Homo sapiens: one gene and its partners. The protein of the gene in region 3 purifies or fractionates together with the protein of the main gene of each other region. This does not show direct contact. Each region holds a gene or a part of one and is shown on either strand. Other genes may lie near its edges.

What was found. Proteins that work in one complex are often made in the same cells at the same time.
Region 1: the proteins of USP36 (region 3) and CELSR2 purify together in Homo sapiens (affinity purification with mass spectrometry; 3 studies listed by BioGRID and IntAct, with this or other methods). This does not show direct contact.
Region 2: the proteins of USP36 (region 3) and NUDCD1 purify together in Homo sapiens (affinity purification with mass spectrometry; 2 studies listed by BioGRID and IntAct, with this or other methods). This does not show direct contact.

Annotation. Positions count from the first base shown.
Region 1 is NC_000001.11:109,273,539-109,276,251, forward strand, and holds the end of CELSR2 (cadherin EGF LAG seven-pass G-type receptor 2 precursor), read left to right. Parts: coding exon 1-132; intron 133-483; coding exon 484-511; 3' UTR 512-2,213; downstream 2,214-2,713. UniProt on the Homo sapiens protein: Receptor that may have an important role in cell/cell signaling during nervous system formation.
Region 2 is NC_000008.11:109,275,088-109,282,087, reverse strand, and holds part of NUDCD1 (nudC domain-containing protein 1), read left to right. Parts: intron 1-915; coding exon 916-1,120; intron 1,121-6,591; coding exon 6,592-6,736; intron 6,737-7,000.
Region 3 is NC_000017.11:78,836,992-78,845,845, reverse strand, and holds the start of USP36 (ubiquitin carboxyl-terminal hydrolase 36), read left to right. Parts: upstream 1-5,031; 5' UTR 5,032-5,110; exon of another isoform or gene 5,111-5,567; intron 5,568-5,835; exon of another isoform or gene 5,836-6,007; intron 6,008-7,095; 5' UTR 7,096-7,259; intron 7,260-8,774; exon of another isoform or gene 8,775-8,854. UniProt on the Homo sapiens protein: Deubiquitinase essential for the regulation of nucleolar structure and function. Required for cell and organism viability.

The sequences.
Region 1 (2,713 bases), on a different chromosome or scaffold from region 3:
TGAGGGCAGCCGGGGAGGCCCCCCTCCCCGCCCACCGCCCCGGCAGAGCCTCCAGGAGCAGCTGAACGGGGTCATGCCCATCGCCATGAGCATCAAGGCAGGCACGGTGGATGAGGACTCGTCAGGCTCCGAGTGAGTGTGGCCGGGTGGGCGGGACGGGGTGCAGCCCCTCGGAGGCCTCACCTGGGCCCAGAGCTGCCTCCGGGCCTCCCCAGGTGACTCTGGATGGCATTTGGAGGACAAATGGGCAGAACTGGCCCAGCTCCCTTACTATGCCGTGCCCACAAACCATGGTGCCTTGCGGGGAGGGCCACCCCTCCTAGGCTCTACGCGGCGCAGCCCAGCCTAGGGCAGAGTGCGGGAGGATGGGGAGCTGGGGGTGCTTTCCTGTTTCCTTCGTCTGGTGAAAGCTTTCACTCTCTCCTCTGTTTCAACTAACCCTCTGTCTGCCTTTTCTGCCACTTTCCTTTCCTGCCTCTCCAGATTTCTCTTCTTTAACTTCCTGCATTAACCCTGGGCCGTGGTTCCTACGCCCGAGGCTCCCTTCCCTTCCCCAGCCGCACTCATGCCCTGCTCCTGTCTTGTGCTTTATCCTGCCCCGCTCCCCATCGCCTGCCCGCAGCAGCGACGAAACGTCCATCTGAGGAGCCTGGGCCTTGCCGGGAGGGGTACTCACCCCACCTAAGGCCATCTAGTGCCAACTCCCCCCCCACCATTCCCCTCACTGCACTTTGGACCCCTGGGGCCAACATCTCCAAGACAAAGTTTTTCAGAAAAGAGGAAAAAAAGAATTTAAAAAAGGATCTCCACTCTTCATGACTTCAGGGATTCATTTTTTTTATACGCTGGAAATTGACTCCCCTTTCCCTTCCCAAAGAGGATAGGACCTCCCAGGATGCTTCCCAGCCTCTCCTCAGTTTCCCATCTGCTGTGCCTCTGGGAGGAGAGGGACTCCTGGGGGGCCTGCCCCTCATACGCCATCACCAAAAGGAAAGGACAAAGCCACACGCAGCCAGGGCTTCACACCCTTCAGGCTGCACCCGGGCAGGCCTCAGAACGGTGAGGGGCCAGGGCAAAGGGTGTGCCTCGTCCTGCCCGCACTGCCTCTCCCAGGAACTGGAAAAGCCCTGTCCGGTGAGGGGGCAGAAGGACTCAGCGCCCCTGGACCCCCAAATGCTGCATGAACACATTTTCAGGGGAGCCTGTGCCCCCAGGCGGGGGTCGGGCAGCCCCAGCCCCTCTCCTTTTCCTGGACTCTGGCCGTGCGCGGCAGCCCAGGTGTTTGCTCAGTTGCTGACCCAAAAGTGCTTCATTTTTCGTGCCCGCCCCGCGCCCCGGGCAGGCCAGTCATGTGTTAAGTTGCGCTTCTTTGCTGTGATGTGGGTGGGGGAGGAAGAGTAAACACAGTGCTGGCTCGGCTGCCCTGAGGGTGCTCAATCAAGCACAGGTTTCAAGTCTGGGTTCTGGTGTCCACTCACCCACCCCACCCCCCAAAATCAGACAAATGCTACTTTGTCTAACCTGCTGTGGCCTCTGAGACATGTTCTATTTTTAACCCCTTCTTGGAATTGGCTCTCTTCTTCAAAGGACCAGGTCCTGTTCCTCTTTCTCCCCGACTCCACCCCAGCTCCCTGTGAAGAGAGAGTTAATATATTTGTTTTATTTATTTGCTTTTTGTGTTGGGATGGGTTCGTGTCCAGTCCCGGGGGTCTGATATGGCCATCACAGGCTGGGTGTTCCCAGCAGCCCTGGCTTGGGGGCTTGACGCCCTTCCCCTTGCCCCAGGCCATCATCTCCCCACCTCTCCTCCCCTCTCCTCAGTTTTGCCGACTGCTTTTCATCTGAGTCACCATTTACTCCAAGCATGTATTCCAGACTTGTCACTGACTTTCCTTCTGGAGCAGGTGGCTAGAAAAAGAGGCTGTGGGCAGGAAAGAAAGGCTCCTGTTTCTCATTTGTGAGGCCAGCCTCTGGCTTTTCTGCCGTGGATTCTCCCCCGTCTTCTCCCCTCAGCAATTCCTGCAAAGGGTTAAAAATTTAACTGGTTTTTACTACTGATGACTTGATTTAAAAAAAATACAAAGATGCTGGATGCTAACTTGGTACTAACCATCAGATTGTACAGTTTGGTTGTTGCTGTAAATAGGGTAGCGTTTTGTTGTTGTTGTTTTTTCATGCCCCATACTACTGAATAAACTAGTTCTGTGCGGGTACAGCACTGTCACTGTCCGCTTCTGTGTGGTACCCTGTCCTCCCACAGGGAGGAAGGTCTGGTCTCTGGAAAACAGAAGAGCCGGCAGGGCCCAGAAGGCCCCACCGGGAGGTCGGGAGACTCAGACACCACTGGCTGATAAGCCTGTCCCTCTGCCCATGTCCATGACACTGCTCCCAAATAGCTGGATCAGCACAGAGCCCATTTCCTGGCATTTCCAAGGAAGACATGGTGGGCGGGCAGGAAGGTGTCCTTTTCACCAGGACGGAAAGGACTTCTACGGTGGGAGAGGCTGCACGGGGCAGGCAGCCTTCCAGCCCAGCCCCTCAGGGCTGAGTCCTAGACAGGGATGAGTTTTCTGGGGCAGAATTCAAGAAGCAGGGAGGGCTGCATTGAGAGGCTGGTTGGAATTGAATGGTGGTCAGTGACTCAGTGCCTCCTAACTATACTGCTCAGGGTTGTTTTTTGTTTTTTTTTTCCCATTGGAAAATGAAGCAGCTA
Region 2 (7,000 bases), on a different chromosome or scaffold from region 3:
TGGCAGCCACTAAATGCCCAGAGGCATACCTAAGTGTGGAGCTAAGAAACCCTCCCAGCCCCAAGTTCTCTGGACAGGGTTCGGGGGATGGCATGAGCTCCTAATCTAGGAGAGCTCCAGGTGCCTGGAGCTCTGCCTAGGCATGGAGCAGGGAGGGCCCCTCTGTATGAAAATCTCTGCACAGGAGATGTAGGTTAACTCAGGCTGTTGAAACAGGCAAACAGGTGCTTTGAATGCCTGAAAGTCCACCTGGGTGTGAAGCAGAGAGGGCCCCCCAACACCAGATCTATGAATAGGAAAGGTGGGACAGTTCAGGCTGCAATCTGGGCAAGGTGCTTTGAATGCCTGGAGGTCTGCTTAGAAATGGAGTGGATAGGGCCTGGCTGCACTGTGATGTATGCACAGGAAGGGTTGGGGTAGTATGGCCTTTAATTTATACTAAAAGTGCATGTGATTTTGCACATCCTCCCATTCCCATTATCTGGCAGAAGCTATCCATTGAGATATTATTATGTAACTGCTTTGCTAGCTTTTCTGGGTAACATATTTTATGTTCTTTTGAACTAGGGATTCACTCTGTGTGTGTGTGTGTTTGTTTAAAGGAAAGAAGGAGTGAAAGAGGGAGGAAGGGAGGGAGAGAGGGAAGAAATGAGGATAAAGGATTGCTATCATTAGTATTTTATGAGTGCTTTATCTCCTCAAGCATCAGGTAAGTCTGGAAGAGGAAAATTTCATGTTAATTGCTGCAAATCTTTGAGTGAAAATTCCTCAAAGAGATCTGTGCATGTTTGTTTATAATTACGTTTTGTGAGATGATCACTAGTAAATATACTAAAATTCTTTTAGATAGGTTTTGTGTGTGTGTATGCTTTCTCTAATTTTTTATTACATGATGCATTTTTCTTTTCCCAATAGAACCTCTGTATTACTGGCAACAGACTGAAGATGATTTGACAGTAACCATACGGCTTCCAGAAGACAGTACTAAGGAGGACATTCAAATACAGTTTTTGCCTGATCACATCAACATTGTACTGAAGGATCACCAGTTTTTAGAAGGAAAACTCTATTCATCTATTGATCATGAAAGCAGTACATGGATAATTAAAGAGAGTAATAGGTATTTTTTTTTAATTTTACTTTAATATTCTATTATCTTTTTTTCTTTTCTTTTTACTCTTTCCACAGTGGTTACATCAGAGATTAATACAATAGTTCTGTCTGTATTGCTGGTTACTTTTCTTAAGATATATTAAAAATAGAATTACTGTGTCAAAGAGCATATTTCTAGTTGAAATTAAAGATAGTAGCATAGCTATCACTTGGAGAATATGGTAGTGCTTTGTTTTACCAGCTCTGGATACAATAATAATCATAGGTGAAAATGGCTATTTTAAATTGCACTTTTTCAAACTTTTTAATAGAAATAATTTTTTTAACTTTAGTTTGCTGGCTTGATAATATATTTCCATTCTTTAAAATTTTAAATATACAAAAGGATGTAGAGTGAGAAGTCTGCCTCCAACACAAGCCTATGGGTCACCCATCCTCCCACTCCTCACAATCAGTGTTGTTACATTTTACATACATTCAAGCATGACACATACTTTTTCCTTTTCTTTAAGGAAAACTACTTTTGGCGGCTAGCTGCAGTGGCTCACGCCTGTAATCCCAACATTTGGGATGCTGAGGTAGGAGGATTGCTTGAGGCCAGGAGTTTGTGACCAGCCTAGGCAAGAAGAGAAAACCCTGTCTCTAACAACAATAAAAAAGTTTTTTGACACATACTTTACACAATTATACATCTTGCTTTTGTTCACTTGCAATGATAAATCTTAGGGATCTTTCCATAATGAATATATAAAAATTATTAAATTCTCTTTTATGACATCACGGTATTTTATTCTATCAACTGCACCATCATTTTAGACAATTAATCCTCTATTGTGTTAATTTAGGTTGTTTTCAATAACTTCTGTTTATATACATATTATTTCACATGTGTAGAAATATATATGAAGGATAAATTTCTAAAAGTGGAATAATTAATATTTCTTTGTAAATTGTAGTAATTTTTTCTTATGTAAATTCTCCATTTACATTTGTTTTTTGAACTGTGTGTTCAGGACACAAAGCCATAAAAGAAATACATAAGTGGCCAGGCACAGTGGCTCATGCCTGTAATCCCAGCACTTTGGGAGGCTGAGGCGGGTGGATTGCCTGAGGTCAGGAGTTCGAGACCAGCCTGACCAACATGGTGAAACCCCGTCTCAACTAAAAACACAAAAATTAGCTGGGCGTGGTGGCGGGTGCCTGTAATCCCAGCTACTTGGGAGGCTGAGACAGGAGAACTACTTGAACCCGGGAGGCGGAGGTTTCCGAGACCAGGCCATTGCTTTCCGGCCCTGGGCAATAAGAGTGAAACTACGTCTCAAAAAAAAAAGAAAGAAATACATAAGTTAGACTTCATCAAAACAGACATTTTCTGCATATCAAAATTAAAAATTTTTGTTCTTCTAAAGATACCATTAAGAGAACAAAAAGGTAAGCCATGAACTGGGAAAAAATATTCACAGTATTCATCTTAAACCAAAGGACTTTCATTCTTAGTGTATAAGGAAGCCTTACAAATTCATAATAAGCCAATTTTTTAAATGGTCAAATTATTTGAATAGACATGTCACAATAGAAGATAGATGAACAGCTAGTAAGCACATCAAAAGGTAATTATCATTAGACATTAGGAAAATTAAAACTAGAGTGAGACACCAATACATGACTAAAACTTTGAAGACTGACAGTATCAAACGTTGGCAAGGATGTGGGGCACCAGCAACTCATTCATATCTGGTACGAGTGTAAAATAATAATACAATCACTTTGGCAGACTGTTTAGCAGTTTCATATCAAGTTAAACATATACCTATTTTTAATCTTAACAATTCTACTCCTTGATGTTTAACCAAAATAAATGAATGTATATAATTTTTTGTTTTTCTGAGACAGGGTCTCACTCTGTTGCCCAGGATGGAGTGCAGTGGCACAGTCACTCAGCTAATTTTTGTATTTTTTGTAGAGATGGGGTTTTGCCATGTTGCTCAGACTGGTCTCGAACTCCTGACCTCAAGCGATCTGCCTGCTTCGACCTCCCAAAGTGCTAGGATTACAGGTGTGAGCCACCATGCCCAACTGAAAATATATGTTAAAAAACAAAACAAAGCCAAAACAAATTTGCAAACATATATTCATAGCAGGCATACTTATAAAAGCCAGAAATATCTCTAGTGTTACTGAAAAGGTGAATGGATAAGTACGTGTGGTATATTCATACAATGGAATGTTACTCTGTAATAAAGTGCTAGCAATAAATAAAAAGCAATATGAATGAATTAAAAACATGTGGAGTGAAAGAAGCCAAAGACAAAAAATCATACTGTATGATTCCACATATGGAGTTCTAGAACTGGCAAAACTAATCTATGGTGATACAAATCAGAACACTTGTTATCTCTAGGGTGTAGGGAGATTGACTGAAGAAAGGCCAAGGGAACTGCCTGTATGGTGGAAATAATTCAGTATCCTCATTGGGTTACAAAGGTGTATGCATTTGTCAAAATCAGTAAATTCTACACTTAAAACCTGTGAATTTTATTTATAAATTACACCTCAATTAAAGGAGCAAAACTGTGTCTTTTTAAAAAAAGATAAAGTTAAGTGTCTTTTAAAATTATAATCCTTTGCCCCCCACAACTGTGCCATTTTGCAAATCTATTATTCCAGGCAGTTTTTTCCCCAATTATTTGGATTACTAAAATTACTTTCTTTTATTTTAAATCAAGTCTTAGTAATTATTAAATTCAGTGATGGATTAATGAATAGAGTTAGGCAGTTAATTTTTTAAATAGTCAAATTTGGTCAGAAATGAGAAATGGTTGATTTAAAATACAACCTAAATCTTGTGCTTTAAGTTGATGTTACATAGAGGATAACTTAGATGTTTTTACACAAAGTATAGTTCTTAATTAGTAGTATATGATCCATGTGAGTCTGATACAAGTCTAAATCATGAGCATCCAAGAAAAATATATCTAGCTCATAGAAAGTTTGAAGTTGTAAAAGGTATCTTACATTTTATTAATGAAGACATTTGGTGATTTTGTTACACTTTTTAATATATCAAAAATAATTGCTTGAAAGTTTCTTTTAAAAGTATTTTGTATCTCCACATACTCCATTTAATTATGTTTATGTGTATGTGAGTCACATTTACAAATTGGCAAGCCAACTAGAACATATTGTTAAATGTAAGTCATCAAGCAGTAACCCAGCAAAGGTCTGGGGGAATAGCTTGACTTCATGTAAGTAGTTTCAGCATTCAATGCATCAACATAGATCAGTATTATTTTTCCATTAAATTTGAGGTGTTTGATTATTATTTTGTGTTAAAAAAGATAACTACAATGTAGCGTAGGTGGTATTGTTGTTTTAAAAACACGATTTTCTGTACTTGAGTAAATTATTCGTACCTCTCGTTTTCAAAAGTTACTGTTGTCTCACTTTGGAAAGATTTTTTTAACTAATCTGTAGTTTATTATATTTGGCATTGTTTGGGGTTTTTTTTTTGCTTGGATGGTAGCATACAATACTAGTTTTAAAACGTACAAATGCAGTCTTAGAAGAAGGGTGCACTGATTAACTGTGCAAATTAATGATGGTTTGGAAATTATAACAGATTGTATCAACTCTTTCAGACCTCTTTAGGTAGCAACTAAGAACAGTTCACTGGGTAAGTGTTCTTTAATAGTTATTTACATATATTTTTTCAGAGAGGCAGAATAGTGCAGTAGTGAAGAACATGGACTTAGAGCCAGACTGTTTAAATAGCTTGTGACCTTGGCAAGTTGCTTAACCTCAGTACTTTTTTTTCTTACTTGTAAAATGGTGATGATAATAATATTTACAGTACTTTATTTGGTTGTTGTAACCAATGAGTTAAAACATGTAAAGTGCTTAAGACAGCACCTGACATATAGGTAAGTATAAGCTATGGTCATTATTACTATTATTATCATCATCATTATTATCAAGATTACCTTTATCCTTAGAAAATGTAACTCAGTCTGGGGGCTGGGCACGGTGGCTCACACCTATAATCCTAGCACTTTGGGAGACCAAGGCAGGCAGATCACTTGAGGCCAGGAGTTTAAGATCAGCCTGGCCAACATGACAAAACCCTGTCTCTACTAAAAATACAAATATTAGCCAGGTGGGCATGATGGCGTGGCCTGTAATCCCAGCTACTTACTTGGGAGGCTGAGGCACGAGAGTCACTTGAACCCGGGAGTTGGAGGTTGCAGTAAGAGAGATTGTGCCATTGCACTGCAGCCTGGGCAAGAGAGTGAGACTCTGTCTCAAAAAAAGAAAAGATGTAACTAAATCTGGGCTTTTATTGTGGGAGTAATTTTCAGTGCTAATTATAAGTACTCATATTATTATTTTGTATAGTCTCTTAAAATAGGTAGTTTCAGAAAAATGTTAAATGCTGTAATTCATAAGGTAGTGATTGTAACAGTCTTGAAAAAGAACAGCTGGTAAGTTTGCGTGTCCTATTTGATAACTATAATAGTTATTATTGTATTCTTGCAGTTGTGTTCCAGGGCATGAGCTAATATGGTACATGTGTACGAAAGATGGCACATGGAAAAGGTTGCTTTGTTGTGGAATAGCTATTACCACTCCCCTTTTCTGTTATAGCAGTGGGTGCTCCCAAAGCATCTTACTTGGGTTTTCCTTCCTATTCCAGAGGAACATGGGACAAGTTACTTCTTCTCCTATGTCCGTAGTCTGCCTTGACTCTGCTCTCTTTCCCTTTCCTGCTGCATCAGTCCTTGATCTCAGGGTTCCCTGACAGACCATTTTAAGTGCATCTGGAATTGTTTAGTTGTTTACATGTACAGAATTAGATTTTAAATAAGTTAATAGAGAACACATTAACATCTTTTTTCCCTGTATTACCAAAGTTAATTTTTTTCCTTATTTCTACTTTTCAGTTATTTAACATCTGTATTTTAAAATTAAGATTTGCGTTGATTTAACCTGCTTGATCTTCAGGTTAATAATCATATATTATGGCTCTTAGTTTGTGAAAATAAAGTTAATTGTTGATTCCAGACACAAAGAATTATCCTTTAATTACAGCCCTTTTACTCTTTGCTTACATGCCCACACCCCCGACCATTCCCCAGATGTCTTATAGATCCATGCTTCTTGTATTTCTATTAAGTTCAGGAACATACTGCATACCAGTACTTTCTGGATGACTTGACTCTTTCCAGGCAATCCTCTCTTCAGGCCATTTGATGTACCATTTCCAGTGGTACTTTCTTTCTTTATTAAATCTGGACTATTTGCCATTGGATTATAGGTTTTCCATCACATGCAAAACTTAAATGAGCAAGATTTTTGGTAAACCATCCTCTGGACACCGGAGGGTTCTTTCTATAGAAGATAGAAACAAACAATGTTTGCTACTGATTGTATAATTTGTATAATTGCTTAATGTAACATTACTTTTCCCATTTAAACTTCTAGCTTGGAGATTTCCTTGATTAAGAAGAATGAAGGACTGACCTGGCCAGAGCTAGTAATTGGAGATAAACAAGGGGAACTTATAAGAGATTCAGCCCAGTGTGCTGCAATAGCTGAACGTTTGATGCATTTGACCTCTGAAGAACTGGTAAGTAGTTGGAATAGTAGTGTGACTTTCCAAGGGTCCAAAAATATGTTATGTGAAGATTATGCCATGCTTTTCAAACAATATTTTGCTTTTCCTAATATAAAAGATACATATCAGATACTACTGATCTGAGTGATGTTTGAATATGGCCTAAGTTCTAATATTTATTTCTTACACTATGTAAATACATACATATATGTGTGGTCATACTGTATAGAGGGTTTGCCTGTATCTGTTTATGTGTGCGTATGTATTGTGCGCTCT
Region 3 (8,854 bases):
AAAAATAAAAACAAGTCACATTGAAAATCACAAAGCATAAGCCATCTACACCTTTTTTTTTTTTTTTTTTTTTGAGACAGAGTCTCGCTCTGTCACCAAGGCTGGAGTGCGGTGGCGCGATCTCGGCTCACTGCAACCTCCACCTCCCGGGTTCAAGCAATTCTCCTGCCTCAGCCTCCTGAGTAGATGGGACTACAGGCAAATGCCACCATGCCCAGCTAATTTTTGTATTCTAGTTGAGACAGGGTTTCACCATGTTAGTCAGGCTGGTCTTGAACTTCTGACCTCAAGGTGATCCGCCCGACTCGACCTCCCAAAGTGCTGGGATTAGAGGCATGAGCTACTGCACCCAGCCCATCTACACCTTTGCAGGGGATTCTGGAGAATTCCGTGTAGCAGGATGACCTATGGAGACAAACTTGCCTCTCACCCGAGGCACCACTCACCTGTCTGTAGCCTGCGTGCTTCATCTATAGTTGGGACCTCTTGCCTGTGGGGCACCTGGTCCACCCTTCCAGCCTCAGCCATCCCAATGGCCTCCTTTTCTTTCCTTTTTTTTTTTTTTTTTTTTTTTGAGATGGAGTCTCGCTCTGTCTCGCAGGCTGGAGTGCAGTGGCGCGATCTCAGCTCATTGCAACCTCCACGTGCCAGGTTCAGTGATTCTCCTCTTTATTTTCTTGAAGGTGCCAAGCTCGCTCCTGTCTCGGGCATTTTGTTCGTGCTGTTCTCTCATTCCAGAACCTCCTTCCCTTGCTCCTCTTACAGCCGGTCTCTCATCTTCCCACTTTCAACGGAGGTAGCACATCCTCGCAAGAGTTTCCTCCGATGCCCCAGGCCAAGGTATTCTCCATCACCTCATCCTGCTCTTGGCCTGGTCACCGTTGGTCATAAAAATTATGCAAAAGTGTTCATTTGTTCATGACCTGCGTGTTCTTAAGTCCTTTGTGGGGAGAGTCCAGGGTTGATTCACTCACCACCATGTGGAACAGAGTAAATAAGAAATATTCGCTGGATGAATCAATTTGTTTGGTGCCACAGGGCCACAGGAAGGGGTGCCAGCCCCAAGAGAACAGTGGAGGCTTTGTGCGGCAGAGGCCTGGATCCTTCTTCCCCAGGAGTTGGAGACTGGAGGCCTTTAGCAAGTGCTTCCTAGGGAAACTTCAGGTCCCTCTGGGCAGAAAGGAGCCCAGAAGGGTGGATATTTGGGGGAGATGGCTGGCACCAGAGATGGCTGGCACCAAGGGGGCTGGGACTGCAGGAGGCTGTGTGGGGCGGGGACTTGGAGGGAAGTGACAGAGCAAGGGAAAGGGCTGGCGAGTGTGAGCGTGAGAGTCGGTGGATTTTGAAAGTGTGTGAGTGTGGTGGGGTGTGTGAGTGTGTGTGAGGATGTGAGTAAGAGAGAATGTATGTGTGTGTGTGTTGGGGGAATCCCTGGGACCGAACTTATTGTAGAAAGGGTGGCATCCTGCCCAGCTGCATTTAGGGGAAGGACCTCTGCCAGCCTAGGGCACATCTGGCTGAGGTGACCCTTGAGCTTGAGAGCAGTACCAGGGGAGCGATGCAGGGAATCCGCAGACTAGAAGACCAGGGTGCACCTCCCCAAACAGCCGGCTGCCTGGAGTGGCTCTTCGGAGCCTGGGTAAACCCCTGGAGATCTGTCCTATTCAAAGGAGGCAGAGAGCCCCCAAAATGATTGAGGTGGGGAATTCCAACCACCGATGGGGTAGAGGTATTAAACTAATTTAGTTTACCAAAATGAAACAAGAGAAAAGGCCGGGAGGTGGGGTGCGGTGGCTCACGCCTGTAATCCTTGCACTCTGGGAGGCTGAGGGGGGCAGATCACCTGAGGCCAAGAGTTCAAGACCAAACATGGCGAAACCCCATCTCTACTAAAAATACAAAAATCAGCTGGGTGTGGTGGCGTGCACCTGTGATCCCAGCTACTCTGGAGGCCGAGACACGATAATCGCTTGAACCCGGGAGGCGGAGCTTGCAGTGAGCTGAGATTGCACCACTGCACTCCAGCCTGGGCGACAGAGTGAGACTCCACCTCAGAAAAATAAAAAACAAGAGAAAACTACAAAATACGTATCCTGACTTGTGCCAAAGCATCTCGGAGCAGCTGCTGCTCTTGCTAGTGCCCTCTGTGGTCCCAACTCCTGGCCGCCACCTGCCCGGGCCTGGGCTGCCGCCTTGCACAGCCATTCTCCTGGCACGGTCAGATGTCTGAGAGTCAACACCATTTAGGAAGGATGACTTTCTCCACCCCTTCTGAGACTAGAAACAAAATGGAAGGGTCATAAGAATGGTGCCAAGCAGCCAAAAGAGCCACTTCCTTTGGGTACCAACAGGTGGCGTGGCGTCATGGCTCCTGTCTTCCCCAAGTGCCTGTGCCCAGCAGCTGCCTCTGCCTGTGCATCTTCTAGGGCGATGCTAATGGCAGATTTCCTGAGAGCCCTGTCCCATCTGCATGGATGGGAAGGACGACATACATTGCTGTTCTTCCTAAGGAAAGTGGCATCCCTCCCAAACCTGGGAACTCGGGTCTCCATGGACCGCACAGACACCTGAGAAAAGGTTTTGCATCAGAGGCTGATGGCAGAGGCTCTACCAGTCCAGCAAGTCACCTGACTGATGTGAAGGGTTCCCCTAGAGCAGGAGGGACATCTGGGCTGAAAACCCTCATGTGAAAAGGCCTGGGCCCCCCAGGCACTCGGCACCTATGAAATGCAACCCCAGCGGGTGGAAAAGCAAGTCCACGATTGCACTCCCCTGCCAGGCTAGGGAGAAATTCTGCTATTGCAGTTCAGGGGCAACACACCCACCCCCGCAGACCTGAGGGTGGCTGCAACTGTCAGCCACACCCAAAGAATGCAGGGCAGGCTCACTGTGGATAAATGTTTATGAAAGAACCACATGGAAATTGAAATATTTGAGATGAGACTGAATGATCTCTAAATCCTAAAAGAGAAAACTAGAGAAACATTAAAGATGAAAGAATAAAATATTCTGTTATAGAAAGCTGTAACCAAAACGGATCACATTAGAACTTACCTCAAGAAAAAGGTGCATTAACAGAATAGTTGTATTGTCACCCAAAAATTACCTGGTCCGCTCCCTGCCTGGGAGGTCAAGGTAAGATGGACTCAATTCCTCTCCTGGTTTCACAGCCTGTAGAAGATGGCTGAAGATTTGGGCTAATTTCGTGAGAGACCTACGTTGCATTTCTTTCTTTTTTTTTTTTTTAGACCAAGTATTGCTCTGTTGTCCAGGCTGCTGGAGTGCAATGGCACGATCTCAGCTCATTGCAACCTCCACCTCCCAGGTACAAGCGATTCTCCTGTCTCAGCCTCCCTAGTAGCTCGGATTACAGGCGTGCGCCACCATACCCAGCTAATTTTTGTATTTTTAGTAGAGACAGGTTTTCACCATGTTGGCCAGGCTGGTCTGGAATTCCTGACCTCAAGCGATCTGCCTGCCTCGGCCTCCCAAAGTGCTAGGATTACAGGCGTGAGCCACTGTGCCCTGCCTTTTTTTCTTTTCTTTTCTTTTCTTTTGAGACGGAGTCTCGCTCTGTCGCCCAGGCTGGAGTGCAGTGGCGACATCTCAGCTCGCTGCAACCTCCGCCTCCTAGGTTCAAGGGATTCTCGTGCCTCAGCCTCCTGAGTAGCTGGGATTACAGGCGCCCACCACCACACCCAGCTAATTTTTGTATGTTTAGTAGAGACGGGGTTTCACCATGTTGGCCATGCTGGTCTCGAACTCCTGACCTCAGGTGATCCGCCCACCTTGGCCTCCAAGTGTTGGGATTACAAGGGTGAGCCACCGCGCCCAGCCCAAGGATTCTTACAGATAGGGCATAGTCTCAGCATCAGACTAATATGGTTATCTTGTTTGCTTTTTTCAAAAAACACCAGCGCCCAGGTAATAAATACAAGGTGAATTTTGTTCCAAGTACATCTAGCCTCTCTCCCCATCTCCAGTCCCTGCTTTAGGATCCGTGGGGAGGGCATGGAAATTCGTTTTGGGTTGTTTACCTGTGACTTCACCCTACTCATCATTCCTACTTACATCAAAAAAGACACAGCAGATACGACTGTGTTTGCAAAGTTCTGCCTTTTGGATAAAGTAGTTTATGCCCATCCTGTGCTTCTCTGAGTTTCTGAGGTCAGGCCAGGAACCAACACTCTCAACCTGCCCAAGGGAATGGGGAGGAAGCCAGCGAAGTTGCCTCAGATCAAGAGGATTTTTAAAAATACTGCAAAAGAAATACGTGCTCACAAATACTCAGCTAAAACCTTCGCAGAGCTGTCAGAGGACAAAGCTTTTGGAGGGAGTGGGTGGAGCTAGAGATTGCACAGCCGCCACCAGCCTACAAAGGTCAAATCTCACACTCTCAGATCCCTAATTCCGAAGAGCCATTTCCTCGGCAGCCCCAGGCTTTGGCCGATCGCTCCCAGATCCCTCCCTCCCCAAACTGCAGGTGCTCCGCGTGTGGGAGTCACGGATGGCCCCAGAGCCCGGGACGTTAAGGCCGAGCGCCCGCGCCTCCGCTTCTCCACAGCCACCTGACGGCCAGGGGCAGGTGGGGGAGCCCAGCCTTCTCCCTGCCCGGGAGACAGCGCGGGAGGGCTGTTGCAGGGGTGGGCAAAGTCCCTCGAGTCCCCGTTCTGGGGCGGGGGCGCGCGCCACTGTCACACTTCAGGCGTCCGCCACGCCGCCAGGTGTGCTCGGCCGACCCGGAAGTAGCGGCACCTCTAGTGCGCTGCGGAGACGTCACCCTGCCGCGGCACAGGGGCGGGAGCGCCTGTGGCTCTGCGCACTTGCGTCATCACGTAGGCTGGCGGGGTCCCGTGATGGGGAGGTGACGTAGGCGACACGGAAGCGGCGGTGGGCGGGGACAGGGAGTTAGCGGAATCTAGCCCCGCCTCTTAAAGCCTCCCAACCCTTTCGGAGTTAGCGCAGCGCGAACGCTGGGTGCGGCGCCTTTAAGCGTCGCGGTGACACGTGTGTGAGGCGCCGGAGGCCCGGATGGTGCGCGTGCTGGGCCGCGGGCCGAAGGAGTCGCCAGGGCTGCGTAGGCTTGTGGCGCGCCCGCGGAGAGGCCGGGGTAGGCTGGGGTCGGGTCGGGGCGGTGCGCAGGCCTGGGGACGAGACCGGGGCGGGGGGTTCCGCGAGGCCTGGGGCGCGGGAAGGGCTGGCGGGCGCAGCCGGGACGCTCAGGGAGAACGTGGGCGCGGGTCCGCGCAGGGCTTCGGCCGTCCCCGAGGAGGACCCGGGATGCTCCGCCCGCTCGCGAGCTCGCTTCTCCAGAGCCCGGGTATTCCCGAGGAGGGTCCGGGGCCGGGCTGTCCTCGCCGGTCTCCGCCGTCCCCCGGGCTCCGGGCCGGTGATGGGGGTCGCCGGGGCCCGCTGTCTGTGCAGGATTCAGGTCAACTTCGGAGAGGTTGAAGTCGGAATCAGGGCGAGGGCGTCGCGTGCGGCCGCAGAGCTCAGCGGGGCGGGTGCGGCCCCGGGGCGGGCACCTTCCTCGTGGTTGCGGAGGAGGCCATGGAGCCCGGGGCGGGGTGCGGTTCCGATGCTGCTGCTTCTGGCGGGTGGCGTGGGGGTCCTGGGCCTGGGGCTGGAGTGGCGGCCGCCAAACCCAGACACACGAGAGGGGAGACTCCGCGCGCCCCCGTTTACGTAACGCTCGCCACGGAGCCATGCTCGGGGAGAGGTGCTCGGGTCGCTGTGTCCGCGGCCGGGCTCGGGGCAGGCGCTGCGGAGTCGCCCGGGAGGCCCCTGGAGCGCGGCGCTGGGCCCCGGGAGGCCGCTGCTTCCGTGGGCTCCTCTCCCCAGCACGTGGTTGACCCTGCGAGCGTCCGTTGCAGTTCATCCTGGAAAAGTGACTTTAGAAGGAGGAGGGAGCGGGAATGAGCCTAAATGGTGCTGGCTGGGGTTCGCGCAGGTGGAAATGTGGATGAGGCCTGTGCTGTCCTTGGACAAGAGAGAGCATCCTTCCTGAGTTGGGTAGAGTGTGGATGGTGTGTGCGTCGGAGGGATTGCTAGTGATTACAGGAACACTTGTCTCGGGCTCCTACACGTCAGAGAGCGAGCGAGCGTTGTTTAGGTTATTGCTTAATGTTTTAGGTGGAATTGGTGAAGTAGAGATTGACCTGTCCCACTTGAAAAATTGTGTTCAAAATCTCTGCATCTACATTAAGGAGTGGGTTAAGTTCAAAGTTACTTATCTCGAGTGAAACTGGGTTACATCTCCCAAGGTTCGTTTATCCCCTCCCTAAGTGGTTCTCAAGCGTTGGTTGTGCATGACAGAGTTCTCACCTTCCAGGGTAGATGTGAGTCCTAACCGAAAGCAGTGATATTGTGGGGAGTTTTTAATACGACTGGATGTCTTCACTTTGTAGATGGCTTTTATTCTGAGATCATTTCCTTACACATTTTTCGGGAGTTGGTATGCTTTTATTTATGGATGAAGTCATAGGTCTGAGATTTGCTGTAGAATTACCTGGGGATGGGAAGTGACTCAGGATGGGTCAGATGTAGTTACTGAGGCTGAATAAGGGGGGCTCATGTGCTCCCTGTGCGGTTCTCCATCTGTGTGTTTGAATGTTTTCACTGTAAACTGTTTTTACGAACCTTAATTTTATGTAATCATAGTGATCGTAGATGGTAATGAAAGAGAAAATCCACACTTAGCAAAGCAAAATTTTGGCAACTCCTATTACTCCCTGAGGTTTGTTGTTGTTGTTATTGAAGTTTTACTGGTTCATTAAATCCAAAACTTGGGGATTTATTACCTCTTACTCTTTGGAAATAAGATTAGACTGGAGCTGACTGGCAGGTGTTGGGGAGGTTTTCCTTCTCTGGGCTTGTCTGGGGTCAAGGTTAAGGTGTTCATATCGTGTGCATTACAACAACTGGTGATGAGGTAGTACGGTCCACCCGCCTCATCCTGAGTGCACGCGTGGATGCTCCTTGGACGGCTTTTTCGTGGTAGAGGGTTCCCGGTGCGCGCCGCATCCCTGGGAAGTAGCTGAAGAGAAGGCACAGGAAGAGTCGCCTCCACTGATGGTCTCCCTGTCCCTCCCACAGGCTCTGACGCCCGCTCTGCGGCTTCGGTGTTTGAACAGGCCACAGTCCAGGAGCGCTTACATTCAGGAGCTCCGCGTAGCACCTGCCCAACCAAACTCAGCCCTCCGTTAAGATCCTGGTTCCATGCCGCAGTAGGACAGCAGGCCCAAGTCTGCACATCCCAGGTGAGTCTGCGAGGCTTCTGTGTATTTTTTGATTCCGTTGAATTGTCTGCATGTGACGCAGCAGTGATTGTTCAGTTGGTGAGAAGTCTTTGATAATTCTCATGAGAAAAGGCTCTTTTATTTTCTCAAATCAGACAACTTATAATGCTTTTTTTTAAATAAGCTTCTGAAATTTCTTTACAGAAGTTTTTTGTTTTTTGTTTTTTTTTTTTTTTGAGACCAAGTCTTGCTCTGTTGCCCAGGCTGGAGTGCAGTGGCGCGATCTCGGCTCACTCCAACCTCTGCCTCCCGTGTTCAAGCAATTCTCTGCCTCAGCCTCCTGCGTAGCTGGGATTACAGGCGCCTGCCACCATGCCTGGCTAGTTTTTTTGTATTTTTAGTAGAGAAACATCTTCGCCAGGCTGGTCTTGAATTCCTGACCTCCTGATCCACCCGTCTCGGCCTCCCAAGTGCTGGGATTACAGGCGTGAGCCACGATTTTTTTTGTTTTAAAGATGGGGTCTCACGATGTTGCCCAGGCTGGACTGCACTGGCTATTCACAGGCGTAATCATAGCTCACTGCAGCCTCAGGCTCCTGCCCTCAAGTTATCCTCCCACCTCAGCCTCCCAAGCATCTGGGACGACAGGCCCAGGCCACTGCACCTGGCTTTTCTTTACAGAAGTTTTTGTAGAAAAAGATACTTGATCCATGTATAGAATTAGATGATCCACAGTGATAAATTTGAATGGCTTAATATGAGGTGCTGGAGGAAGTCCTTACTTTCACTAGAGCAGAATTTTGGGGCACACTTGACTTGTTGATTCTCTGAGGGCAGGCTGGGTACTGAATACCAGAGGAAGTCATCATTTTTCTGATGTGAGTGAGCAATTTAAGGGACATATTTTTGAAATTGTGACTCAGATAGTCTGTGCTGTGTTTGGGAAGGTTAAGTTGAGAGGTGGTGGGTAGGGGAGGGCAAGTGGTGGATACAAAGGTAGCGATTGGAGAGGTGCAGGGGTCTCTTCTTGGTTACAGTTTCCATGCAGCTGCACCAACAGTATCGATCCTCTGTTAGGGACTGTAGTATGTAGCAAGCTCTAAAGCACTTCCCAAGCCTATTATTTTTGTTGCTATTTTACAGTAGAATAGGGGGTTTGGAGAAGTCATAGTAGTTGTCCCTGGGTTTCATAGCTAAGGATGATAGAACCTCCCGGGGCCACCACATTCCAAAGCCTGTGATCTCCCCACTCTCCTGCTTGGCTTTTCTTCTTCTCTTTTGATAAGAGTCCTGGGAAGACATTTGTTTAAGTTTAGGTGTCTAATGGATACTAGTCTCTAGGCCTGCTACTTGCTTTTCTTCTCCTTCCTCACTTTTAAAAAGATAATTTGTACTCCAAGCACTGTGTAATGGAGATTAATACAAGCCACAAATATAATTTAAAATTTTATAGTAGCCACATTAAAAAGAAGCAGGTGAAATTCATTTTCATAATTTATTTAACTCAATATATATAAAATATTACCATTTCAACAGGTAACTGATCTAAAAATTACTGGGATGTTTTACATTCTCTTCTTATACTAGTGAGTATTTCTCTTCAAAATCTGGTGTGC